7 linked regions of the Homo sapiens genome follow. The protein of the gene in region 1 interacts with the protein of each later gene in a pairwise test. Each region holds a gene or a part of one and is shown in the gene's direction. Other genes may lie near its edges. The genes, in order: DDI1, SDS, EYA2, PTPN11, UBE2K, CYGB and KLHL42.

What was found.
Region 2: the proteins of DDI1 (region 1) and SDS interact in binary tests that used the Homo sapiens proteins (3 or more experiments, as listed by UniProt).
Region 3: the proteins of DDI1 (region 1) and EYA2 interact in a two-hybrid assay, tested with the Homo sapiens proteins (one large-scale study listed by IntAct).
Region 4: the proteins of DDI1 (region 1) and PTPN11 interact in a two-hybrid assay, tested with the Homo sapiens proteins (one large-scale study listed by IntAct).
Region 5: the proteins of DDI1 (region 1) and UBE2K interact in binary tests that used the Homo sapiens proteins (3 or more experiments, as listed by UniProt).
Region 6: the proteins of DDI1 (region 1) and CYGB interact in binary tests that used the Homo sapiens proteins (3 or more experiments, as listed by UniProt).
Region 7: the proteins of DDI1 (region 1) and KLHL42 interact in binary tests that used the Homo sapiens proteins (3 or more experiments, as listed by UniProt).

The regions. Positions count from the first base shown.
Region 1 is NC_000011.10:104,035,211-104,039,439, forward strand, and holds DDI1 (protein DDI1 homolog 1), read left to right. Parts: upstream 1-1,429; 5' UTR 1,430-1,612; coding exon 1,613-2,803; 3' UTR 2,804-3,986; downstream 3,987-4,229. UniProt on the Homo sapiens protein: Probable aspartic protease. Seems to act as a proteasomal shuttle which links the proteasome and replication fork proteins like RTF2. Required, with DDI2, for cellular survival following replication stress.
Region 2 is NC_000012.12:113,401,088-113,405,325, reverse strand, and holds the start of SDS (L-serine dehydratase/L-threonine deaminase), read left to right. Parts: upstream 1-1,438; 5' UTR 1,439-1,558; intron 1,559-4,238. UniProt on the Homo sapiens protein: Catalyzes the pyridoxal-phosphate-dependent dehydrative deamination of L-threonine and L-serine to ammonia and alpha-ketobutyrate and pyruvate, respectively.
Region 3 is NC_000020.11:46,901,343-46,904,842, forward strand, and holds part of EYA2 (protein phosphatase EYA2), read left to right. Parts: intron 1-84; exon of another isoform or gene 85-406; intron 407-3,500. UniProt on the Homo sapiens protein: Functions both as protein phosphatase and as transcriptional coactivator for SIX1, and probably also for SIX2, SIX4 and SIX5.
Region 4 is NC_000012.12:112,484,947-112,488,446, forward strand, and holds part of PTPN11 (tyrosine-protein phosphatase non-receptor type 11), read left to right. Parts: intron 1-1,516; coding exon of another isoform or gene 1,517-1,528; coding exon 1,529-1,683; coding exon of another isoform or gene 1,684-1,687; exon of another isoform or gene 1,688-1,977; intron 1,978-3,496; coding exon 3,497-3,500. UniProt on the Homo sapiens protein: Acts downstream of various receptor and cytoplasmic protein tyrosine kinases to participate in the signal transduction from the cell surface to the nucleus. Positively regulates MAPK signal transduction pathway. Dephosphorylates GAB1, ARHGAP35 and EGFR.
Region 5 is NC_000004.12:39,774,636-39,778,135, forward strand, and holds part of UBE2K (ubiquitin-conjugating enzyme E2 K), read left to right. Parts: intron 1-198; coding exon 199-298; intron 299-3,046; coding exon 3,047-3,175; intron 3,176-3,500. UniProt on the Homo sapiens protein: Accepts ubiquitin from the E1 complex and catalyzes its covalent attachment to other proteins. In vitro, in the presence or in the absence of BRCA1-BARD1 E3 ubiquitin-protein ligase complex, catalyzes the synthesis of 'Lys-48'-linked polyubiquitin chains.
Region 6 is NC_000017.11:76,531,210-76,534,709, reverse strand, and holds part of CYGB (cytoglobin), read left to right. Parts: intron 1-3,018; coding exon 3,019-3,250; intron 3,251-3,500. UniProt on the Homo sapiens protein: Probable multifunctional globin with a hexacoordinated heme iron required for the catalysis of various reactions depending on redox condition of the cell as well as oxygen availability.
Region 7 is NC_000012.12:27,790,233-27,793,732, forward strand, and holds part of KLHL42 (kelch-like protein 42), read left to right. Parts: intron 1-1,475; coding exon 1,476-1,669; intron 1,670-3,500. UniProt on the Homo sapiens protein: Substrate-specific adapter of a BCR (BTB-CUL3-RBX1) E3 ubiquitin-protein ligase complex required for mitotic progression and cytokinesis. The BCR(KLHL42) E3 ubiquitin ligase complex mediates the ubiquitination and subsequent degradation of KATNA1.

The DNA.
Region 1 (4,229 bases):
CCTTCAAGGCAATGGCCCATCTACCCTATATCCCATTTTAGAGACCCTCTGTGTTATCCACACATTCCACTTTTTTACACTCCCCACCTCCAAGGGGTATGCACACTCTGTCCATTTTACTCAAGAAACATGTTTATTCTCTACTGCTTTGGCTTTGGGCCTCCTGACTTTCCACACTCTAGCAACAGCTCCCTCTTTGAACCACTGGAAAAGCCTCCTGACTGGCCCTCCTGCCACATTATGTCCTCCATGTGTTGCAAGAAGCCTCTTCCTTAAGTCAATTTAAAAAAAAAAATCACAAACACCTGCTTCAAATCTTTTCCCTTTCCTTTCCTTCCTTACTTCTTTTTCTTTTTTTTTTTTTTTTTTTTTGGAGGAGGAATTCTTGCTAATTGATAATATTTAATATTTAAACTCCGTAGATTCACATATGACTTCATCAATTGGCTCAACTAATTTTTTTCCAGCTTCATATCCTGGTATTCAAAGTCATGTACAATTTTTTTATTGCACAAAATGTCTCATCTTTCTCTAGAAATAACAGCCCTTGCCATAAATTCCTGCTTTTGTAACATGAAACTGCTTTCCTTTGGAGTGAGACCACTTTGCACCTGGAAGATGCTCATCCTTCAACATCCAGCTTGTCTCCTCCTTAGGAAAATATCCTCTGTTCTGTTGGTGATACTAAAGGCAGTACCCTGAACATGTCTTTGTAAAAGATTTTGCCTTTAGTATTGTGATTACCCATTCACCTGTCTATCCCTTTCCAGAAATGTGAGCTCCTCAAGGGCAGGCTCCAAATCTGACTTTCCTACTATGCACATAGAATGGTACTTGCCATGTAAGAAACAAATCCTTACTGTTTGGGGAAAAAACAAAAGTACAAAGAATACAACTCTAAAATGAACAAAACAAATGATAATATGCTGTTTAGAAAGTGTTGAAAAACTAGGCATGGTGGCTCACACCTGTAATTCCAGCACTTTGGGAGGCCGAAGTGTGGGGGATTGCTTGAGCCCAGGAGTTGGAGGCCAGCCCGGACAACACAGTGAGACCCCAAATCTATTAAAAAAAAATACAACAATTAGCCGGGCATGGTAGACTGTGCCTGTAGTTCCAGCTTTTCAGGAGGCTGAGAGAGGAGGACTGCTTGAGCCTACGAGGTCGAGGCTACAGTGAGCTGTGATTATGCCACTGTACTCCAGCCTGGGTGACAGGATAAGATCCTGTCTCAAAAAAAAATGTGTTGAAATCATTTCTTTCATATCATGTGTTAAATAGGCTTTGAAGGGCTGGCCTTGAAACCTGACAGCTTTGAGCCATCGTGTATCCATGGGAGTAGGCATTCTAGGTTCCAAACAGCACACTTAGAAATGGACTTTGGAACACAACGTGCTACCTCAAGGCTCCACCTGGCCACACAGCAGGCACTGAGGCTGGGAGACAGCCCCCAGACAGATGAGTGTCCGCGCCTCTCTGAGAGGTGAATGAGCCCGGACGGTCCCTACCTACCAAGTCCTGAGGAGCAGCGGCACCAACGACGCAGGCCCGCCCCAGCCCGCCAGTGAGCCGCCCATGCCCTCTGCTAGCCCGGCCCGCCCGGGCCCCCGCCATGCTGATCACCGTGTACTGCGTGCGGAGGGACCTCTCCGAGGTCACCTTCTCTCTCCAGGTCAGCCCCGACTTTGAGCTCCGAAACTTCAAGGTCCTCTGCGAAGCGGAGTCCAGAGTCCCCGTCGAAGAGATCCAGATCATCCACATGGAGCGACTCCTCATCGAGGACCACTGTTCCCTGGGCTCCTACGGCCTCAAAGATGGCGATATCGTGGTTTTACTGCAGAAGGACAATGTGGGACCTCGGGCTCCAGGGCGTGCCCCGAACCAGCCTCGTGTAGACTTCAGTGGCATTGCGGTGCCTGGGACGTCCAGCTCCCGTCCACAGCACCCTGGACAGCAGCAGCAGCGCACACCCGCTGCCCAGCGGTCACAGGGCTTGGCGTCAGGAGAGAAGGTGGCCGGCCTGCAAGGTCTGGGCAGCCCCGCCCTGATCCGCAGCATGCTGCTCTCCAACCCCCACGATCTGTCCCTGCTCAAGGAACGCAACCCTCCCTTGGCGGAAGCCCTGCTCAGCGGAAGCCTTGAGACCTTTTCTCAGGTGCTGATGGAGCAGCAAAGGGAAAAGGCCTTGAGAGAGCAAGAGAGGCTTCGTCTCTACACAGCCGACCCACTGGATCGGGAAGCTCAGGCCAAAATAGAAGAGGAAATCCGGCAGCAAAACATTGAAGAAAACATGAATATAGCGATAGAAGAGGCCCCCGAGAGTTTTGGACAAGTGACGATGCTCTACATTAACTGCAAAGTGAATGGGCATCCTTTGAAGGCTTTTGTTGACTCGGGCGCCCAGATGACCATTATGAGCCAGGCTTGTGCCGAGCGATGTAACATCATGAGGCTGGTGGACCGACGGTGGGCTGGGGTTGCTAAAGGAGTGGGCACACAGAGAATTATTGGCCGTGTTCATCTAGCTCAGATTCAAATTGAAGGTGATTTCTTACAGTGCTCTTTCTCCATACTTGAGGATCAACCCATGGATATGCTTCTAGGCCTAGATATGCTCCGGAGACATCAATGTTCCATCGATTTGAAGAAAAATGTGCTGGTCATCGGCACCACTGGCACGCAGACTTATTTTCTTCCTGAGGGAGAGTTGCCCTTATGCTCTAGGATGGTAAGTGGGCAAGATGAGTCTTCGGACAAGGAAATTACACATTCAGTCATGGATTCAGGACGAAAAGAGCATTAAAGCACGTTATAAATATGTTACCACCTTGAGGGAGCCTCAGGTCCCCGGCAATTATAAGTTAAGAGCTTACTGGCAATGTAATCATTAAAAAACATCAGTAACAACTAAACCTGGCCTTGGGACTACGTTCTCAGATGGGTAACTAACGTCAATCCTGATTCCTTGGTCTTGGTCCCTCTTCCATTTCCCTTGTCCAGAGATCACTGAAAGGCATCCTGGGAAGGCTCTGGAGGCTCCAGCTGATTTCCAGATAATCCATGAAAAAGAAAACCAGCTTCTTCCTTTAGAGACACTATCCTATCAGATTACAGGTGGCTTATCCAAATCATTGCTATTTTGCAGAATTCCCTGGAAAAATGCTATGGCTGCAGACCTTACAAGGCATCCACATAAAACTATTTCACATCAGCACTAATAATTCTTTCTACTGAGAGAAATATGCCCATTTTCACAGGTTTTGTTTTCTTTGGGAAGGGTATTAGAAATGGTAGGTCAGTTACACTATGATGTTAACTAATACTTATACATGTCTGTTTGGGGCAGCATAAAGACCAATTTCCTCATATTTACACCTTCCCTTCCCCTGGATCCCCTGCAGTCACCCTGCAATCCACAGCTAAAGACTATTTTTGCCATATTTGAGAAAGTGGATTTATCTCCAAGGATGCTACATTAATTTTCTATTTCTCCTGCATTCAAAGAAACTCTGGCTATAAAACAAAGGCAATAAATTAGATTTTTTAAAAAAGAAATTATGGTACTTCTTGGGAGTCAAGTTGTACAGTGGTGGGAATGAGAGGTGGGGACAGGCAGTGGTCCAGGTTCTCTAATAGTCATTGCAACTAGATCATCTCTCTCTCTTTTTCAAAGTAAAAATCTGCTTTATACATTAAGCTGCTGCTACATCAGTATTGTTTGAACAAAGGTTTTCACTGTTAAAATAACATTTGAAAACTTTTGAATGAGAAGATCTCTAAGGCCTCATTCAGAATTATCCATTCTGACAATGTTAGTGTTTATTACAACTGACAGTGGGTAATGGAAGATCCTAGACTTAATTACAACCCATGGCTAAAGCACCTGAGAGAAAAGTTTCAGCTTCCTGAGGCCATCAGATGCAGGGGAAATGTTTCAGGACAATAATTTATCAAAACTAGTATTAAAACAGCGGATTCAAAATCAAGATGTGTATGTTTTGATTACACTTAATTACTTAGACAAATTAGTTCACCTACTTTACAACTGAGATTCCTCACCTAATAATTTTTTTTTTCCTGGGAGGGGTCACTTTTCAAGCACTAAAACCTCATTATCTTAAAGGATCTGGGATATCCTTTAAGTTATTCTATTTTCCCGACAAGATATAAAGCCACATAAAGCATTCCCAAAGGATACAGAAAAAAATAACTCTCCCTTATAATCTCCA
Region 2 (4,238 bases), on another chromosome or scaffold:
AAACGCAGAAAAGGAGCTGTTCAGGGAAATCAAGCTTAGATATCAACCAATTGTGGGAGATCAGGAGTTCTCTGGAGGTGGGGAGCTCCCAGGCCTCAGCAAACTGTCCTATTTTGGAGGGCAATCAAGATCGCTCAAGGCCGGCATGGTGGCTCACGCCTGTAATCCCAGCACTCTAGGAGACTGAGGCGGGTGGATCACTTGAGGTCAGGACTTCAAGACCAGCCTGGCTAACATGGTGAAACCCCATCTCTACTAAAAATACAAAAAATTAGCTGAGTGTGGTGGCACATGCCTATACTCCCAGTTATTTGGGGGGTTGAAACAGGAGCATCGCTTGAACCCAGGAGATGGAGGTTGCAGTGAGCCAAGATCATGCCATTGCACTCCAGCCAGGGTGACAGAGCAAGACCCACCAAGCACCAGTAGGAGACTTGTCAAAGGTCAGGGCCACCTCCACCCAGGGTCCCTTTCATGAGTCTCCAATCTGTAAATCAAAAAGAATCAAAAAGATTGAGACAGGACTCAATCCATTTAGAAATTTATTTCGCCAGGGTTAAGAATGCACCTGGGAGACAGGTCTGTGCTTTTCTCCAGAGATGACTTTAGGTGTCAGTATTTAAAGGAGAAAAGCAAGCTGGAGGGGAAAGAAGGAGGCTATGGCCACATTACCAAATCCACAGTTTGTAAGAGAAGAGGGGCAGATAGGGAAGTAGCCAATTATGTATTTGTCTTGATCTCAATAAATCGGCACTTTACATAAGATAAGGTGAACATAGAGTAGCGACCTGTGGAGATATTTAACTTTTTTTTTTCTTTCTGTTGTGAAGGCTGGAGTGCAGTGGCGAGATCTAGTCTCACTGTAACCTCTGCCTCCCAGGTTCAAGCAATTCTTGTGCCTCAGCCTCCTGAGTAGCTAGGATTACAGGCACGTGCCACCACACCCGGCTGATTTTTGTATTTTTAGTAGAGACGGGATTTCACCATGTTGGCCAGGCTGGTTTCGAATTCCTGACCTCAGGTGATCCACCCGCCTCGGCCTCCCAAAATGCGGAGCCAATATTTAACCTTTCATCTGAAGCTATCTGCTTAGGAACTAAAGGAAAGGCAGTTTCTTACATGACTCAGCTTTTAGCTTAATTCTTTTTCTTTTGGCATAGTGAGTTGGGGGTCCCAATTTTTTATTTTCCTTTCACGAAACTGAGGACAGAAAGGGGAAGTGGAAAGAGGGAGGAGGAGTGGGTTGTGGGAAAGGCAGGAGGAAGCTGCCAAAGAAGAAAGCTTGGCCAGATTCCACCTCCCTTCTGACAGCCTCAGTGGCCTCAAGCCAGGGGGGTGGGTCCTGGCAGGAGGGAGGGGGGGGTGTAGCCAGCCCCAGGGCCCCATTGGCTGCCCAGAGGTGCCAGAGGAATAAAGCCCAGGACCAAGTAGCCCCTGGGACCATTCAGAAGACTGTCCACCCGTCCTCAGCCCCCTCTCTTCGTGGGCTATCTACTCAGTTGATCCCTCCCTCGCTGGCTTGGCTCTGACTCCTGCTCAGACCCATCACCTTTGCCGGGTAAGTGGCCCCATCCTCAGTCCCACCTCAGGACTGGAGTGTCCCGGGCTAGCCTGTGGTTTCCCAGGGGAAGAGGGAGACATAGAAAGAGTCTGTCAAGGCTGGGCATGGTGGCTGATGCCTGTAATCCCAACACTTTGGAAGGCTGAGGTGGGAGGGTTGCTTGAGGCCACAAGTTCAAGACTGAGCTGGGCAACAGAGTGAGACCCCCCCCAATCTCTACAAAAAAAATTTTTTTTTTTTAAGACAGAGGTCTCACTCTGTCACCCAGGCTGAAGTGCAATGGCACAATCTGGGCTCACTGCAACCTCCACCTCCTGGGTTCAAGCGATTCTCCTGCCTCAGCCTCCCGAGTAGCTTGGACTACAGGCGTGTGCCACCACGCCCGGCTAATTTTTGTATTTTTAGTAGAGATGGGGTTTCACCATGTTGGCCAGGCTGGTCTCGAACTCCTGACCTAAAAAAAGAATTTAATTAGTATAGTGTGGTGGTGCACACCTGTAGTCCCAGCTACTGGGAAGGCTGAGTTGGGAGGATCGCTGGAGCCCAAGAGGTCGAGTCTGCAGTGAGCAATTATTGCGCCCCTGCACTCCAGCCTGGGTGACACAGCAAGACCTTGTCTCAAATTTTTAAAAAACAGCCATTTGGGCCTAAACACTGAGTTTGTGTCCAGTTCTGTGCCTCAGCTTCCACATCTGTAGAATGGGGATGAGCATAGCGCCTTCCTCCTCAGGTGGTTGTGACGGTGAAAGGATGACCTGCACTTAAGGTGTCCAGCCCAGATTTCATAATAGTTCATATCGACTGAGCACTTACTGTGAACCAAGTGAAAGGGAAGGTGGCTTCCGACTGCCGGAGTGGGCAGACAGCGGCTTCAGGGCTCCCTCCCTCCTCCTCCCCGGGCACAACCTCTTCTGAAGTCTTGCGATCCTTGGGGCAGGGATCCTTGGGGCAGGCTGGATGCAGTTAATGGATGCTCACTTCACGGAAAGCCGCGGCAGAGGGAGCCCTGTCCTTTTACCTGAAGGCATCCCATGGCACCGCCTGGGACAAACGGCGAGAGAGGCGCCCCAAACCCACCTGAAAAGGGTCTTCGTGGCCGGCTCCTCTGACTCCCACCCCGATTGTCCCTGAGGCCAGGCCTTGGTGACCTACACCGGCCTTTAATGTCAAGTCAGTCGGTGTGGTGGCTCACGCCTGTAATCCCAGCACTTTGGGAGGCCAAGGCAGGCAGATGACTTGAGGTCAGGAGTTCGAGACCAGCCTGCCCAATATGGTGAAACCTTGTCTCCACTAAAAATGCAAAAATTATTCGGGCGTGGTGGTGCACGTCTGTGATCCCAGCTACTTGGGAGGCTGAGGCAGGAAAATCGCTTGAACCCAGAAGGCGGAGGTTGCAGTGAGCCGAGATCATGCCGCTGCACTCCAGCCTGGGTGACAGAGGGAGGTTCTCTAAAAATAACTAAATAAAAACCGGGATCCCATTGTTTGGGGATTAACCTCCAGGAGCTGAAAGTTCATGCCGATTTGGGGATGTCCTGTTTTGAAGTTTGCCCCAGTCTCTGATTTTTATTCGAGAGATCCAGCGGAGAGAGGGTGTCTGTTCAAGTTCCCCTCCCAGGCCCCGAATGTCAGTTAATTCAGATAGACAAGGGGTGACCTATTTAGGGGATGCTAAGTCTGGCGGGGCAGTTGGAATCCCCACCCCTCATTCTCCCTCTGACCAAGGGATGTCTGGCTCATTCTGGGAGCGGGGGATGGATGTCCAAGCTAGGAGTGCCCAGGACAGGGGGCTGGACAAGGTGGCATTGGAGATGGGTCTCTGGCTAGCCACCCTTGCCTGGCCTTCTGGGATGGTGGAGGGAGGGGGAACCAGAGAGCCCCTTGGCCATCGTCAGCTGATCTCTTCTGGCCCGGCCCAAGTTGAGGAGAATCAAATCCTCCCTGAGACTCTCAGCAGAAGGCAGGGGAGATGGGAAGGCTGGGTGGGTGGACGTGGCTGTGGCTAGACCCCGGGCCACCCCAGCTGCTTCATCCCCCAGAGCCCATCCAGAAGCAGGAGCCTGAGCCACACCCATGGGTCGCAGAGAGAGCCTGAGCCCTGGAGCCAGCTGCCCGAGTTCAAATCCTGCCTCCCTGCCTCACTCACAGCGTGACTTTGGGCAAATTATGTTAATATTCCCCTTCCTGTTGCTGTGTACCAAACTACCCCAAAATGTGACTTAAAACAACAGCAAGCCAGGTGCTGTGGCTCATGCCTGTAATCCCAGCAGTTTGGGAGGCTGAGGTGGGCAGAACGCTTGAGGCCAGGAGTTGGAGACCAGCCTGGCCAACATAGCAAAACCCCATCTCTACTGGAATGAATGAATGAATGAATGAATGAATGAATGAATAAAATTTAAAAGCTGTGATTAGTCACTGCTATAATAATTATGACAAAATTAATAATTATGAAAGAGCTTTTCCTAACTGAATATTGGGCTTCCCAAAAGTTAGGTTATTTTGTTTTTTTTTAAATAAATATTTATTGAACATCTACTATGAGTCAGGCATTTTGCTGGGTCCTGGGATCGTCCATTTAAGCCAAGATACTTGGAACTGCATGTCAGAAGAGCCAGCTGCCAGGTTGTTTTTGTTTGTTTGTTTGTTTGTTTGAGACAGAGTCTCGATCTGTAGACGA
Region 3 (3,500 bases), on another chromosome or scaffold:
GGTTAAGGTATTCATGGTTTCCAAAACAATTTTTTGTTCCCACTATGTTTTCTAGCATTTAAGATGCAAGGTATAAGTACTCACCTTTAAATCTCTATTGATTGGCAGCTTCCTGAAATACAGAGTCAGAGAGCGTGTCCACCACGTCCTGAGTTTGGTACCAACCCAGGTGCTGATGGAAATTCCAAGTAGGGAGAAAACGTCCTCTTCGGAGAGGCAGGGTGTCAGCGCAAAGAGGTTATTTTCTTTTGTGGGTGTGTATTATTTGCACATATCAGGACTTTTGTTTCAGGGTGTTCTAGAAACATTGATCTCTCCAGCAAAGTTCTGCGTGTCCTTCTTGGTTGGGAAGGGAGCGGAGAGGAAGGAGCCCCGAGGAGAATCGTGCACCTTTGGCCTTTTGTGTGACTCCTAGAGTAGAGGGAAGCCTCCGCTGCTCGGAAGGTGTCACGTGGTATAACAAGTTGTGACTTGTGCCTGTGTTGTCAACAGAGTTTTAGCCCCGTCCAGACATGAAAAAGAATGGAGCCCCGAAGATGATTCACCTCCGGTCTGCGATGGGCCCAAGCTGTCCAGTGCTCTCCTCTTGCTAAACAGACCATACTCCCTGGAGGAGTTAATGGCTGGGGTGTGGAGAGAAGACCGGTAGGAGGGGAGAAAGAATGCCTTAAACTCAGCAAATGTCTAAAACGCTCAAAATGTCTCAGCATTGCTCAGGCACCCACAAGAAAGACAAACTGATAAAAGGACATAGAATCAGGCTTTTTTTGAGGGGGAAGCACAGAGAGGTTGGGGGTTTGCTAGAGGTTTGATCTAGAGTGGACAATTTTTCTAACACCTTGGGACCCGATTTTGGAAATGTCTTCCTGTAGCCTTGCTGTCATTCCTTTGTGCTTATTTTTAGTGAATTAGTTTTGGGGATTTTCTTTTGTTTTTAAGAAAACACAGAGTTGTAAGACTTGTTTGGGAATCACAGGTTTTATTGAACACTTATTATTTATTGAATATTTATTATGTCCCAGGCATTGTGCTGTGGAAATACTTTATATGTTTTGTCTCCAAATGGCAGTAGATGGAACGTGCTGTTATTATTATTTCTATTTTACAGATGTGGAAACTGAGTCTGGAGAGTAACTTGTCCAGGATCACATGGCTTATGCCAGAGCCAGGATTAAACCCAGTTTTGATTCCTAACCACTAGGATGTCCAGCCTGCTCCCGTGGTATAACAAGAACTTCCCTTTCTCCATCTGTCTGCCCTGGAGAGCTAGATTTTAAAGTCCTTTTCCACTTGCATTGCCTTATGGATATTTATCGATGGTTAGGTACAAAAATCAGGTTGAGAAAGTAAGAGACGCCAGCAGATTCTCACAAGATTTTGAATCTGCCCTTGTAGAAATGAATGAATGTTTCAAGCTGGACCTATGGAAATGGTCGTAGCATCACTGCAGTTAGTGGCCTAAGTCATTGCTTACAGCTGCTCTTGCCCTATAACCGCAGGGTTGAACAGCCGTACTACAAAGACCATACGGCCTGCAAAGACTATCTGGCCCTTTACAGAAAAAGTTTGCTGACCTCTAAGCTATTGCAATATGACAAGACAATCCTTGTAGACCAGAAATAACATGCACTTGGGACATTTCGTATACCATTTCAATGATTTATTATTTATCAGGTGCCTCCAATGTGCTTGACACATTGCACAGTGATAGGGGAAAATTACAAGTGACTTCATTCCTTCATCCATTTACTTAACAACACTTATTTAGCTGTGTTCTGGGCTGTTTACTGGAGAGCCAGAGGTGAGAAGGACCAAATCCAGCATCTCCGGTAGGAGGATCCCAATGTGTTCTCACCAGTATCCCATGGCCTCTTCTTTCCTGAGGGTGCAGAGGGTGTTGACATGACTTTTTGAGCTTTCTAATGTTTGAGCAGCAGAATGGAAGCAACACCTCAGTCTGTAGACCCTCACCCACAGAAGCTATGCCTGGTTCAGTAAGAGCAGTGCCTCGGCTTCTGCACCTGAAACCGCACTAGGCATATAGGACTTACCAGTGCCCCAGGCTTACTCGGCCGACAGCAACTCTCTGCTTCCCTCAATGCGTTGTGCAGAATGAGGAGGAATGTAGAGAATCAGACTTTCCAAACCTCAGCCTGGGTACTGACTTTCAGCCTCGAGATTAAGAGCTTGAGTCCAGGAGCCAGGCTGCTCAGGTTACACTTCCCCTCAGTGTTAACCTACTCCTGCGTTTAACTTGGGGGTAAGTTACCAGACTTTTCGGTGCCTCAGTTTCTTCGTCTGTAAAGCAGGGTGAATAATAATGCACCTTCCTCAGAAAGCTATCGTGGAGATTGAGTTAATAAACATGAAGTGTTTGGAACTACGGCTGGCAAGTGGTATGAATTATATCAGTGTCAGCTACAGTTATTATTATTATTTATGAATTTGACCTGAAGCAAATTACTTAGACTCTTTGGGATGATAATAATAATAGTAACAACAATAATAAAATAACTTTTCATAGTGCCATTGTGAGAATATAAATGAGGCGATACATGGAAAACACTTAGCTTTGCTACACTGCCTGCCTCCATTCAATGTTCAATGAGCTAGCTATTGAGATTATGGGGAACAGTGCACTGGATCAGTGCGGTGTCTATAAGCTATTGATCAGTTGAGTCATTTTAGGTATCGAGAGAATGTTGGGCAGTGGTCGATAGCACAGGCCCTGGACTCAGACAGATCTGGCCTGAGCCTGAGTCAGTCCATCACTCACGGACTGCCATCTCCAGCAGGGGTCTGACCCTCTCAACGTCCCAGACATCGGAGACAGCAGTTAACTGTTCCTGGGGTGGTTGGGAGGCTTAAAAGAGTGGCTGGCACACCGAGCACAGAGCAGGGTGTTTGGCACATAGTAAGCACTCAATAAATGGTAGCTTGTATTATTACCACCCCCATTTCTTGCTGTACCCCCACCCCCAAGAAAGCACTGAACATTAGTAAATTTTAATTTGAAAATAAAAGAACACATTTTAAAACTGCCAAACAGATTTAAAATAATATTCATTACACAAAATTAAAATATTCTATTAAAGCCAGACTTTGGGCTCAGACCAAATTTTTATAACCCAAGCTTAAAGGCCAGGGAGTCCCCCAGCCACAATGGGGACATTGTGATTGAACTTGAGACTTCAACGCTGCTATTGAGCAGTCTTTGAAATGCATGTTTCCCCTAAAATAAAAGGGAAGTAATGGGAAGGAAAAAAATGAGGTTCTTGCTCCCCTCAACAAGCCTTAATGAATTGGAAAAGAAAAACAAAATATTTCTCATTTTTCTCCTGCTACTCGATCCTGCCAAAGACGCACGGCCCCTCCCAACCCTGGCTTTGAATGGTGCCCACTCAGAACCTTCCAGATCTGATATGCTATATGAGCAAACCTAATCTAAGTTGTAACATTGTAGTCTTCACCAGGTTTTACAGATGGCGGATTGTATCACT
Region 4 (3,500 bases), on another chromosome or scaffold:
CCTTTTACATCCCTTTTAAAAATGTCACTTAAGGCTGGGCAAAGTGGCTCATGCCTGTAATCCCTGCACTTTGGGAGGCTGAAGTGGGTGGATTACTTGAGGTCAGGAGTACAAGACCAGCCTGGCCAACATGGCGAAACTCCTTCTCTACTAAAATTAGCTGGATGTGGTACATGCCTGTAGTCCCAGCTACTCGGGAGTCGAGTCTGAGGCCCAAGAATTGCTTGAATCGGGGAGGCGTAGGTTGCAGTGAGCTGTGATCAGGTCACTGTGCACCAGCCTGGATGACAGAGTGAGACTCTGTCTCAAAAAAAAAAGTCACTTAGCTTAGATTGTCTCTACATATATAGGAAGAAGATGTAGGAATGAATGGTGCTGCTACAATTACGTCATCTGGATAGACCCAGAAACATGATACTTTTTGGTTTTCTGTAGCCTTGGTGCCATTGTTGATCTTTATTAATTATCATTATCCTCAAAATAGCCATAATGTGCTGAGTCTCTTCCTATTTGCTGGGCAGAGGCTGAGTATTTCAGCGAGCTCACTGAGTCCTTAAAATTGCATTATGATAGAGAGAAAGAGATTATTATTTGCATTTTGCAAAATGAAGAAATTGAGGTTTAGAGATACCCAAGGGCCACGTGAGTGTGAGTGCCTGGAATTGGAGCCTAAATCTAGTCATCTGATAGCAAAGCCTGTTTTCTTATCTGCTTTGCATTAAATATAAGTTTAAAATAGAACAATACTGGCCAGGCTGGGTGGCTCACGCCTGTAATCCCAGCACTTTGGGAGGTCGAGGCAGGCAGATCACCTGAGGTCAGGAGTTTGCAACCAGCCTGGCCAATATGGCGAAAGAAACCCCATCGCTACTAAAAATACAAAAATTAGCCAGGCATGGTGATGTGTGCCTGTAATCCCAGCTACTTGGGAGGCTGAGGCAGGAGAATGGCTTGAACCCGGGAGGCAGAGGTTGCAGTGAGCCAAGATCACGCCACTGCACTCCAGCCTGGGCAACAGAGTAAGACTCTGTCTTGGAAAAAAAAAAAAAAAAGAATGATACTATAGTCTGTGTTTATATGGTGGGGAAGGTTGAGTATCAAAAAAATAACAAAGAGGAATGAATGTCTTAAGTGAATGCCTGTTTCCCCATCTGCTTCCTCTTCTGCTGGGAGGAGAGACCTGGATCCCTAGAGGTTTCAGTTGCCTCCAGAGCTGAGTGCCACAGGGATGCAGGGGAATAGGGATGTTACCTGTCGCTGGTAATTCAGAGAGATGATTCAGGGTATAGTTACCTGAAAGAACAAATTGCCATGCCAGACGTCTTGGTTCTTATGACAGAGGCAAAGAGTTGCCTCCAGGATTGCCCAAAAGGAGACGAGTTCTGGGAACCTCACGAAGAGGACCTTTCAGTGGAACCTGGGGAGATTCTCTTCCTCTCCATTGGATTTAGGAAAGCTTAGAACCGGGTGATTCCTCAACCTCTTGATTTATTTAATTCTTTTCTGGTTTTTCTTGGCTCTACTCCAGGGGAATACGGAGAGAACGGTCTGGCAATACCACTTTCGGACCTGGCCGGACCACGGCGTGCCCAGCGACCCTGGGGGCGTGCTGGACTTCCTGGAGGAGGTGCACCATAAGCAGGAGAGCATCATGGATGCAGGGCCGGTCGTGGTGCACTGCAGGTGACAGCTCCTGCTGCCCCTCTAGGCCACAGCCTGTCCCTGTCTCCTAGCGCCCAGGGCTTGCTTTTACCTACCCACTCCTAGCTCTTTAACTGTAGGAAGAATTTAATATCTGTTTGAGGCATAGAGCAACTGCATTGAGGGACATTTTGATCCCAAGGCATATTTCTCCTAGACCCTACAGCACTGCCATTGGCCATGGCCATGGCAACATGCTCAGTTAAAACAGCAAAGACTAAGTCAGCATTATCTCTGAGTCCACCAGAAGTTGTGCATTAAACAACTTCATCCTGGCTCTGCAGTTTCTCCTTATTCTTCATGATGTTTGCTTTGTAGCTGTTGACTGCTTTGTAGGTATTGAGGTGGTGGGGGTGTGGTGGAAATAGGCCTGACTCTTGAGGATCCCTTAAGTCATTTTTGCTTGGTTCTCTTTTTCCTTCTTTTCTTCTACTCTTCTATGATTCATCTCTTTGATTGTGATTCTGTTCTCTCTCTCTCTCTCTCTTTTTTTTTTTTCGTTTTTGAGACAGAGTCTTGTTTTGTTGCCCAGGCTAGAGTGCAGTGGTGCCATCTTGGCTCACTGCAACCTCCGCCTCCCGGGTTCAGGCCATTCTCCTGCCTCAGCCTCCCAAGTAGCTGGGATTACAGGCATCTGACACTACGCCCGGCTAATTTTTGTATTTTAATAGAGACAAGGTTTTGTCATGTTGGCCAGGCTGGTCTCGAACCCTTGACCTCAGGTGATCCACCTGCCTTGTCCTTCCAAAGTGCTGGGATTACAGGTATGAGCTACCATGCCCGGCCCATTCTGTTCTCTTCTACCATAAATATATTTCTCCCCTAACACTATATTTGTTTGCTTCACAAGATTCCAGCTGCTTTTCCACCAAGGCCTTTGATGGAAGCTGTGCTGTGACCTCTGTAATGAGTCTGTGGGCTGCTGATTCTCCAGTTTGGGCTTCATGATTATACTGGGGAATATTGGGTTTCCTAAATCTCATTCATTTCTTGGGCAAGTAGATATATGTGAAAGTGTTTATTTGTCCAGTTGTTAAAGAAGCTACCATTTATTGAGCCAGCCTCTGAGCACAATGTTTTTTGTTTTGTTTTGTTTTTAATTTTTAAAATTATTTACTTCTTCTATTTCAATAACTTTATTATTATTATTTTTTGAGACAGAGTCTCACTCTGTCACCCAGGCTAGAGTGCAATTGAGCGATCTTAGCTCACTGCAACCTCTGCTTTCTGGGTTCAAGCAATTCTCATGTCTCAGCCTCCCGAGTAGCTGGGATTACTGGTACGTGACAACATGCCTGGCTAATTTTTGTGTTTTTAGTAGAGACGAGGTTTTGCTATGTTGGCCAGGCTGGTCTGGAACTCCTGGCCCCAAGTGATCCTCCTGCCTCGGCCTCCCAAAGTGCTGGTATTATAGGTGAGAGCCACTGCGCCCGGCCCTCTTTCAGTAATTTTGATGTATTTTTTTGTATATGATTCCTGTTTCATTCTGTCCAACCAGCACTCTGTATGGTATGTGCTGTTGTCCCCATTTCACAGATGCAGAAATTAAGGGTCAGAGAGGTTAAGGGACTTACCTCAGGCACGTTGTACTGGAGAAGCTGAACTCCAAGAGCAGGTTTGGGCTGACTCCAAAGCCCTATGCTTTTTGCCAACATATTTTCAAACATAAATAGACAATTTTATAAATAGCTCCAAAGAGTAGACATTGTTTCTGTTGATATTAATGGCTTGGTTTTGAGTCTGAAACCCCCATGAATGATTCTGTTGTCCCTGCTTTTTGTCCTTCTGCCCGCAGTGCT
Region 5 (3,500 bases), on another chromosome or scaffold:
TAGGCAAATTGTAAAGTAAGGAAGAAAATATATGATAGGCAGATACATAATTATAAATGTCTATGACTTAACTATATAATTAAGATAAAGATCTAAGTAACTTTTAGCTCTACAATTTTTTAATTTTTATTAAGAAAATACTTTGCTTTTGCCTGCAGAGCCCTCTTAATTGGGATATTTTCATGTTTTGCATTTTAGGGCAGCTGCAATGACTCTCCGCACGGTATTATTGTCATTGCAAGCACTATTGGCAGCTGCAGAGCCAGATGATCCACAGGATGCTGTAGTAGCAAATCAGGTAAGATGGCCGCTTTTGAAAGACTTTCTTATATTATGTATGAGTCTCTAGCCACTTCAGTGGTTTGCACATTAACACATGAGCATACTCTATTGAAACTAAATTTTGAAATGGTTTTCTTTCTTGTGGTAGGATTATTTTGTCAGGTGTAATAGTGAAAATAGACTTTTAACATCCTAGTTTAATTGGATATAGATGCTGTTTTCCTAACATGAGTATTTTCAAACACATAAAGTCAAAAGAATTACATAGTGAACACCCATATTCCTACCATCTAGATTCTATGATTAATGCTCGTGTATGTGTCCATCTTTTTATCCTTCCTTTCAGTGATGATCCCTCCCTGCTAATAATTTTAATCACCTCCTATCATGGGACTTATGTGACATGGCACAGTTTCCAATGACCTTGTAATTTGTTGAACAGAATAAATATTTTTCATTTCGCTTTCTAGCTACAGTGGCTGAGTTTATTAGTTACAACGGAGACTGGACCTAAGTTATTAGTATCTGACCTGTTAAGAAACAGTTTGCTGGCCAGGTGTGTTGGCTCATGCATGTAATCCCAGCACTCTGGGAGGCTGAGGTGGGTGGTGGATCACTTGAGGTCAGGAGTTCCAGACCAGCCTGACCAACGTGGTGAAATCCTGTCTGTACTAAAAACACAAAACTAGCCTGGCGTGGTGGCACACACCTGTAGTCCCAGCTACCTGAGAGGCTGAAGTGGGAGAATCGCTTGAACCTGGGTGGCAGAGGTTGCAGTGAGCTGAGATCACACCATTGCACTCCAGCCTGGGTGACAGAACGGGACCCTGTCTCAAAAAACAAATTTGCCAACACCTACTCTAAGCCATTGGAATATAATGGACATTTTTTTTTTTAAACTTAGAAAGTTTTTCTTCTCTTGACTTCTAAGATATTACCCTCTTTTCTTCCTCACTTCATAGCTGTTCTTTGTTAGTTCCCACAATTATTTCCCTTCTTACTCGTCTTTCTTAAATGTAGTTCCTCAGTTCTGACCTTGTTACCTTTACTTTCTGTACACACTCACACTTGGATGATCATATCTGTACTGATGTTAGTACCTGTACATTGATAAAATGTTTAGGCTTGCCCTCTCTCCTAAGCACGAGAGCCTGGTGTTTAACTAAATTGGTAGGTGATGGTATCATAGAATGATAGGTTTGTAGGATTTATGATACTGCATTCAGTTTTGGCAGTGTTACATTCAGGTATCCAAGGAACATTCATATGGTTAACCACCCAAGTCACAGCCTTTGGAGTTTTTCTCTGTGTCTCCTTTGCTCCTGTTGATAACCATTCCCTGTATCATTCTGTCACTATATTTACATAATTACTCTGATTGCCATAGGTCACTTTTAAAAAATTGTTTCTTTTCAACTGCTCTGATAGATCTCCTTTTCTCAACCTCTTTCTTCCTTTCTCCATCTTCTACATTGCTATCAGGTAGCTTTATAAAGTGCAAATCTTACTTCACTAACAAAAACTTGTTCGTAGCTCTACTGTCATCTACTTGAGTCCAGATTCTTTAGTTTGCAGAGTTTTTCCATGATCTGAACTCTGCTTTATTTCCTAAATTCTTGTTTTCTTCAAACTCATGCTTTTTCAAGCATTGCATTCATTTTTACATATTGTATCCAATCTACCATATTTCCTCTGCCTGAGGAAACTTCCTCTTGGCAAACTTCTTTAACCTATAAGATTTTAATTTATATATTATCTTTCTTCTTTTCCCTTGAAGATCTGTTTATGTATATATGTATATATCCTTGTCAATATATTCTGTTATTTGTCTCAGAGTACTTCCAATTAGGGTTTTCCATGTTTTATATATGTGCTATTTGTTCATATTTGTTGTTATAAGCATGGCTTGTGTTCCAGCTTTGCTTTCCTATTGAGCTCTAAGCCTTACACGTTGAGGTTGGACTCAAGGGTTTCTTTTAGCTCCTAAAATAGTTCAATAATTTGACTTATTTCCTTGTGATGAATAAGTGGTAGAAACTAGATTTATCGTTTTAATATGTAATAGATTTAAATATATAAATTACTTTTAAAAGAAATATTAAAGTGAATTGAATAGTTAGTAATTTATACTTTGCTTTACTAAGTAATGGTGGTTCCAAAGTATTTGATAAATTTACCTCTTTCCAATGCATATGGGAAGTCTTTTAATAAAATTACTCTATTGTGAGTTTATAATCATCTCAAGTTATGTAATAAGTTAGGACTTTGCATGTGGGGTTTCCATAAATCACTGTACACTAATGCAGCTGTAAGAAAACAGAAGAATCTAGTTGTATTCTAGCCTGGGCTGTGGGTAATACAAAAGCTGGTTACATCGTAAAAAATTATTCTAATGTCCACATATTTTTATAAGCTAGTAATCTGTGTTCAGTTGTATAATGTTTGCTGCTTTCCAGTGTTTGGAACATCTCTTAATACCTCACTTAACCTAATTTTAGTCTTGCTAGTTATATTTGTTGAATTTGGAGATTAAAGTAGATTAATGTTACTTGTCTTTATTATTGTCAACACAAATTGTGAGTCGAAGCTTCAGGTTAAGTGGTCTTTTCTCGAGTGACATAGGTTGTCTATAATGCAAAGTGAATCACATTTTAAATGTAGATTTGTTTTATTTGGAAAAGTAGGATTGTAGGCGATTAAGAGCTGAAATATATCAAATATTATAACTGTAATGTCATGTCAATCAATTTTTCCCCCCATATAGTACAAACAAAATCCCGAAATGTTCAAACAGACAGCTCGACTTTGGGCACATGTGTATGCTGGAGCACCAGTTTCTAGTCCAGAATACACCAAAAAAATAGAAAACCTATGTGCTATGGGCTTTGATAGGGTAAGTACATAAGGGCATGTTGATTTTGATATATTGATTGATTTTAAATTATTGCAAATTCTTGGCTGACAAAAGTGGTTTAGAAAATAAGAGAAATTCGCAGCCTGGGCAACATGGCGAAACCCATCTCTACAAAAATTAGCTGGACATGGTAGTGAGTGCCTGTAATTCCAGCTACTCTGAAGGCTGAGGTGAGAGAATCCCTTGGGCCCAGGAGGTCGAGGCTGCAGTGAGCGATAGTCATGCCACTGCACTCCAGCCTTGGTGATAGAGCAAGACCCTGTCTCAAAAAAAAAAAAAAAAAAAAAAAAAAGGAAAATAAGAG
Region 6 (3,500 bases), on another chromosome or scaffold:
AAAGCGGGCCTGCCTGGGCCCCTTCCTGGCACTGCCATCTACTTTGTTGGGCAATCTTGGACATCAATTCCTAATTCATAGGATGGGGATTAAAACAGTGCCTACCTCAGGAGAGAATTGCAAGGATTCGTGAGATCGTACAGTAAGTGCTCAATAAATGTTCCCTGTTGTTTCCTCATCAGTAAAATAGAGGTAATACCCGCTTAGCTGTGGCAATTAAATACAATAACAGGCCGGGCACCGTGGCTCACACCTGTAATCCCAGCACTTTGTGAGGCCGAGGCAGGCAGATCACCGGAGGTCAGGAGTTCGACACCAGCCTGGCCAGCATGGCGAAACCCCGTCTCTACTAAAAACACAAAAATTAGCCGGGTGTGGTGGCGGGCACCTGTAATCCCAGCTAACTTTGTGAGGCTGAGACAGGAGAATCCCTTGAACCCAGGAGGCAGAGGTTGCAGTGAGCCAAGATTGCACCAGTGCACTGCAGCCTGGGCAACAGAGTAAGATTCTGTCTCAAGAAAGAAAGAAAGAAAGAGAGAGAGAGAGAGAGAGAGAGAGAGAGAAAGAGAAAGAGAGAGAGAAAGAAAGAAAGAAAGAAGAAAGAAAGAAAAAGAAAAAAGGTACAATAACATTGTAACACAGCAGGCAAATATATATATCATTGTTATTATTTTGTCAGGGTCTTGCTCTGTCACCCAAGCTGGAGTACGGTGGCGCCATCATGGCTCATGGCAGCCTCCAATCCTGGGCTCGTGATGCGATCGGATCTTCCTGCTGCAGCCTCCCAAGTAGCTAGGACTACAGACGGGCACCACCACACCCAGCCAATTTTTTTCTTTTTTTCTGGAGACAGGATCTCACTATGTTGCCCAGGCTGGTCTCAAACTCCTGGCCTCAAGTGATCTTCCTGCCTTGGCCTCCCAAAGTTCTACAGGCATGAGCCACCACACCTGACCTTTTATTATTATTATTATCATTATTTCTTTGGATTCAGGGTCTCACTCTGTCACCCAGGCTGGAGTGCAATGGCACAATCTTGGCTCCCTGCAGCCTTGGCCTCCCGGGTTCAAGTGATCCTCCCACTTTAGGCCCCTGAGTAGCTGGAATCAAAGGTGTGTGCCACCACACCTGGCTAATTTTTTGTATTTTGTAGAGACAGGGTTTGCCACATTGCCCAGGCTGGTCTCAAATGCCTGAGCTCAAGCAATCCACCCGCCTCGGCCTCGTAAAGTGCTAGGATTATAGGCGTGAGCCACCGTGCCCGGCCATATCATTATTTTTTATTGCAATTGTAAAACCTCCAAAGTCTGAGATGCTTGTTTAAGTCCAAATTGGGTTTTTCACATTTGTCCCTCATTACAGTGCTTCTCCAGAAAATTCAATGTATTTTCAGACCCGTCGCCTCACGTGTCCTCACCCGTGTATCCATGAAGCAGTGAGCGGGGGCCCTCCTCTTGCCCTTCTGCAAACAGGGAGCTTGTGAAGCGGTTTGCCCAAGGTCACAGTTGGCCTCTGAGAGGGGCCCTCCTGAGTCTCCACACAGACTGTGCCCTGGTCACTGTGCAAACTTCCCCGCCAATAGCAGTTCCACCAGCAGCAGGGATGACCCGGCCAGATGCCCTCTCCGCATCTGTTCCAGCCCTCACATCTGAGACTCGACTCCTGGCCAAAGGGCTACTTCCGCAAATTATCAGCTCTCTCTGATCGCAAAGGGGACACACGAAGGGGCAGAACAACCTGGAAGAACAGGTCCAGGCCACTCCATACATTTTCTGGGGATTCACTTAAGTTATTTAAGTTCTGATTGAGTCGGTGCCCATGTCTCACATGACATCCAGCCCCGACAGGGAGGGGAGGTGAAAAAGTCATTGTCGGCCGGGCGTGGTGGCTCACACCTGTAATCCCAGCACTTTGGGAGGCTGAGGCAGGCGGATCGCCTGAGGTCAGGAATTTGAGACCAGCCTGGCCAACATGGTGAAACCCTGTCTCTACTAAAAATACAAAAAATTAGCTAGCCGGGCGTGGTGATGGATGCCTGTAGTCCCAGCTACTCAGGAAGCTGAGGCAAGAGAATCACTTGAACCCAGGAGGCAGAGGTTGCAGCGAGCCAAGATTGCACCACCACACTCCAGCCTGGATGACAGAGTGAGACTCCATCTCAAAAAAAAAAAAAAAAAAAGCCATTGTCATTTTTCACACTGCAGGGCCCCAGCTAGGGCAGGGGGTCAGAGGGTGCGTGAGAGCCTTGGGATCCAGTCTGACACGCTGGAAGGAGGGCAGGGAAGGTCACCTGAGTAGTGCCAATGGCCTCAGGGGCAAAGCATTTCCCCTGGGCCAGCCTGCTCCAGGTAAGGCATGTCTGACACAGGAAAAGGGTAGTAGAAAGGAATGTGGCTCACCCGAGGAACATTTTCCCAACTGTAAGTAAAGCCGCTGAGCCAGGACAGGGATGATGCGAGTATAGTGGGGAATGTGGACATGAGTTTGAAGAAGCGGGTGGGGGACAGTTCAGAAGTCTGGAATGCCCGGTTAAGGAGTTTCACTTTGGCAGACAATAGGGAGCCATTGAATGTTTTTGAGCATAAGCATGACTTCATGAAAGCAGTATTTTGGGAGAGTCAGAACAATTTCAGTCCAACTAGAGAGGATTTAATTTCAGATCAACTCATGATTCCAGAACCTGAGTTCTTACCCTCTCGGCTATGACTAGAGCAGGGCTTGAAGGGGGTGTAGAGTTTGGGAAGGAAGCAAGAAGCGAGGAAGACAGAGGCCTAGGAGATGAAGCCGCCAGCCTGAGCAAGCCTGGCAGATAGACATGGCCAGACTTGGTAGGGGTGAGCCGGCTTGGCCAGAGGGAGGAGGGTCTATGCTGAGGTCTACTGATGGTAGTGAAAACAGTGACGGTGCGGGGGTGGGGAGCACTGCGGTCCACTTCTTCAGCCCCCACTATCCTGGAAGCTTCAGGGTGGGCCCGAGGCAGCCTCCAGCTTCAGCGACCACCCCTGTTCCTCTTGCCAGGTTCTTTGTGAACTTCCCCTCGGCCAAGCAGTACTTCAGCCAGTTCAAGCACATGGAGGATCCCCTGGAGATGGAGCGGAGCCCCCAGCTGCGGAAGCACGCCTGCCGAGTCATGGGGGCCCTCAACACTGTCGTGGAGAACCTGCATGACCCCGACAAGGTGTCCTCTGTGCTCGCCCTTGTGGGGAAAGCCCACGCCCTCAAGCACAAGGTGGAACCGGTGTACTTCAAGGTATGCGCCCCCATCTGCTGCAGAGCCCCCACCGCCCACGCGTCATGGCCATCTGCAGCTCGCAGGCTCTGCGACGGCTCTCTGGAGCAACAGAGGTGATCCCCGGAGTGGCTGCGAGAGGGAGGGGCAGTGCCCGGCAGCAGGATGGAGGGGCTGGGTCCAGGGCAACCCTTGTCCTGAGAGCACGGGGTTCCCAAAGCTGCCAGACTGTTGCGTTAGGAATGATCCTCTCGGCCACACGTGGGGCGGA
Region 7 (3,500 bases), on another chromosome or scaffold:
TAGTATTTTATCTCTGTGTAGTAGTTTCTGATAGACTATTTGATTTAATCATCTCTACCACCTTGTGATGGCTGTTACCCCATTTTACAGATGAGGAAGTGAGGTGGTTGGACCAGGGTCAGATAGCTGGTTATCAGCAGAGCTGGGACTAGAAGCGAGGTCTTCTGATTTGTGCTCAGGTTTTTTTCTGTTGCATCATGCTGCTGCTCATCCTCTTGTAAACTTGTGACTGTTGCACACCTCACAGCAGACTGACCCAACACTCCCAAGAGTTTATCCTTCCTGCCTTTTGTGTGCTATATCGAAACAAATTAATTTTGTGTTACTATTCAGTTCAAAAATCATAAGACTTATTTAGTGTCTGAAGCTGATAAGCAGCATTTAATTATTTTCTGAATATAGAGCTGGAAACCATTGTCCATCTCTTTTTCAAGTTATTATTTTTATGAAAGATGAGCATTTGTCAATAGAAGTATTTGTTGAATTAACATATGTAAAGACCCTAAGAATGCTGGATCAAAATATTTTGAGGCTGGTTGTGGTGTCTTATAACTATAACCCTAGCACTTTGGGAGGCTGAAGCAAGAGGATCACTTGAGGCCAGGAGTTCAAGATCATCTTGGACAACATAGTGAGATGCCATCTCCACAAAAAACTGTTTATAAAAAATTAGCTGAGTATAGCTGAATATGATGATACATACCTGTAGTCCAAGTTACTCGAGAGGCTGAGGCAGGAGACTCTCTTGAGCCCAGGAGTTCAAGGCTGCAGTAAGCTATGACTGTGCCACTGCAGTCTAGCCTGGGTGACAGAGCAAGACCCTGTTTCATAAATAAATTAGTAAATAAATAAATACAAACTGTGAATTTGTTCAGTGCTGACCTCTCCCCATCTTACATGTTGTGAAGCAGTATGTTAGATGCCCTTGGAGGCGGGAGGCAGGACCAGTGTCTTGCTCAGGTATACTCGTTGTGCAAGGATCTCCTGACCTACCCTTTAGCAGTCACTCCTCGCACCTGCCTGTCTCGACAGCACCAGTGTGTCCCTAAGATGAAGCCATACTACTCAGTAGGAAGAATGAAATACCCATTCTGAGAGGTGAAAGACAATGGGGTGATGTGGGTGCCTTCCCCTCTTACCCTTGTGCCTGCCCCTGAAAGAAAGTGTGGAGTTTAGTGTATACACATTGTCTTTGGTTGCTGGACTAAGGCTGAACAAGATTAATAACTTGTTGTATTGAACTGCTTATCTTCGATAGCTAGTGTTTGGACAGTGTGCCATTCCCGTGGAATCTTGGGGACAGGAGTGAGATTCGAGAAGCCATCCTTTCCTCCTCTGTCCTCAGGCGGAATGGCCCCCAACTGGGAGAGCGAATTTTCTTCAGATGTTCAGGAGAGTCTAGTAGTTCATGCCATTGTTACACTTTTCATTGATCAGAAGAACTAACTCTGTGGGCCTTTGTGTCTCTCTTTCAGGTCTAACTTCAAACTTGTGGCTGTTAATTCAAAACTCTATGCCATCGGAGGGCAGGCCGTTTCTAACGTTGAGTGTTACAACCCCGAGCAGGATGCGTGGAATTTTGTGGCGCCCTTACCCAATCCTCTGGCTGAGTTCTCTGCCTGTGAGTGTAAGGGAAAAATTTATGTCATTGGAGGATACACTACCAGAGGTAAGTGAAGGGACCAGGTAGGTGGTCTGCCCATGTGTAGGCGTCAGCAGTCTGGGAAGGGCAAGAGGGTGTCAGAGGAAGCCCCGACATATCCGAGTGTCATGTTATGCTTTAATAGTGTACACTTACACATCTGGAAGGAAGAGAGTTCCATATGGCAGGGATGATTGGGACAGGAGGGATCTTTTGATAACTTTGTGTGAGCATGAAAATCGAATGGGGAAGGGAGAGCTGTGAAAAAAAAATGTTATCTCTTTTTTTTTGCTTCTGGAAACCCAGCTTTTTGGTCAGCCGTCTTGTGATTTGGCTGGGCCTGGTTTGTGGGGGTCGCTCTCTGAGGTTGGGTAGCTCTTTGGAGAAGATTATCTGGGAACTCCCATCCTTATCCCAAACATACACCAAACCTGCCCCCATCCACCATTATGGAATTTAGTACCAGAGCATCCTTGCAGATTAGTTCTCATTTTCTCTCTTTGTGAGCACACACACATCAGGTAGAGGTTCCAGAAACCCAGCTTTAGGACACTGTTCACATATCACAGGAGGAGCAAGGACATGAATACAAGAGAGCTCTTTCCTGACCAGCAGTGGGAGGTGGTTGTACTATCTATTTATTTGTTTATTTATTTATTTATTTTTTGAGATGGAGTCTCCTTCTGTCACCCAGGCTGGAGTGCAGTGGCGTGATCTCGGCTCACTGCAATCTCTGCCTCCTGGGTTCAAGCAGTCCTCCTGCCTCAGCCCCCCAAGTAGCTGGGATTACAGGCTGCACCACCATGCCCCGCTAATTTTTGTATTTTTAGTAGAGATGGGGTTTCACCATGTTGGCCAGGCTGGTCTGTAACTCCTGACCTCAGGTGATCCACCTGCCTTAGCCTCCCAAGGTGCTGGGATTACAGGTGTGAGCCACCGTGCCCGGCCTGGTTCCACTATTTATTAAAATGTATATATGTGTTTTTCACTTTTTTGGTAGGCATTTTATTGTTAATAATTTGGAAATTAAAAAAATTTCTCCACAAGCTTATTTTTTGTGGAGACAAGGTCTCCCTGTGTTGCCTAGGCTGGTCTTGAATTCCTGGGCTAAGTGATTGTTCTGCCTTGGCCTCTCAAAGTGCTGGGATTACAGGCATAAGTCACCATGCCCTGCTTGCCAGCAAGTTTTATACTGCTCTTTTTGGTAGGGAATTGTCTCAGGTTACAGTGATAGAGAACAATGTAGTTGTTGGTGGGATACAGTGGCTCATGACTGTAATCCAGCACTTTGGGAGGCTGAGGCAGGAGGATTGCTTGAGGCTGAGAGTTGAGGACAGGCCTGGGCAACATAGCAAGACACCTTCTCTAAAAATGAAAAAAATTAGCTGGATGTGGTGTCATGTACCTGTAGTCCCAGTTGCTTGGGAGGCTGAGGCAGGAGGATCACTTGAGCCTGGGTGTTCAAGATAGGCCTGGTCAACACAGCAAGACCCCTTCTCTAAAAATGAAAATAAAAAAATTAGCTGGTTGTGGTGGCATGTACCTGTAGTCCCAGTTACTTGGGAGGCTGAGACAGGAGGATTGCTTGAGCCAGGGGTTTGAGGCTGCAGTGAGCTATGACTGCTCCCCTGCACCCCAGGCTGGGTGACAGAGTGAGACCCAGTCTCTAAAATAAAAAAAAAAAAAAGAAAAGAAAAAATAAAACTGTGGTTGTGGGAAGACAGACAATGGGGGACAGTCAAGCAGAGGGGTGCCTTTCCTTCCCTCTACTCTCCAAAGCAGATGTCTCCAAGTTACCTCTTAGCCAAGGAAATCTATTTCTGCATTTGGTCTGTGTGACTCTATGGAGCCCAGGACT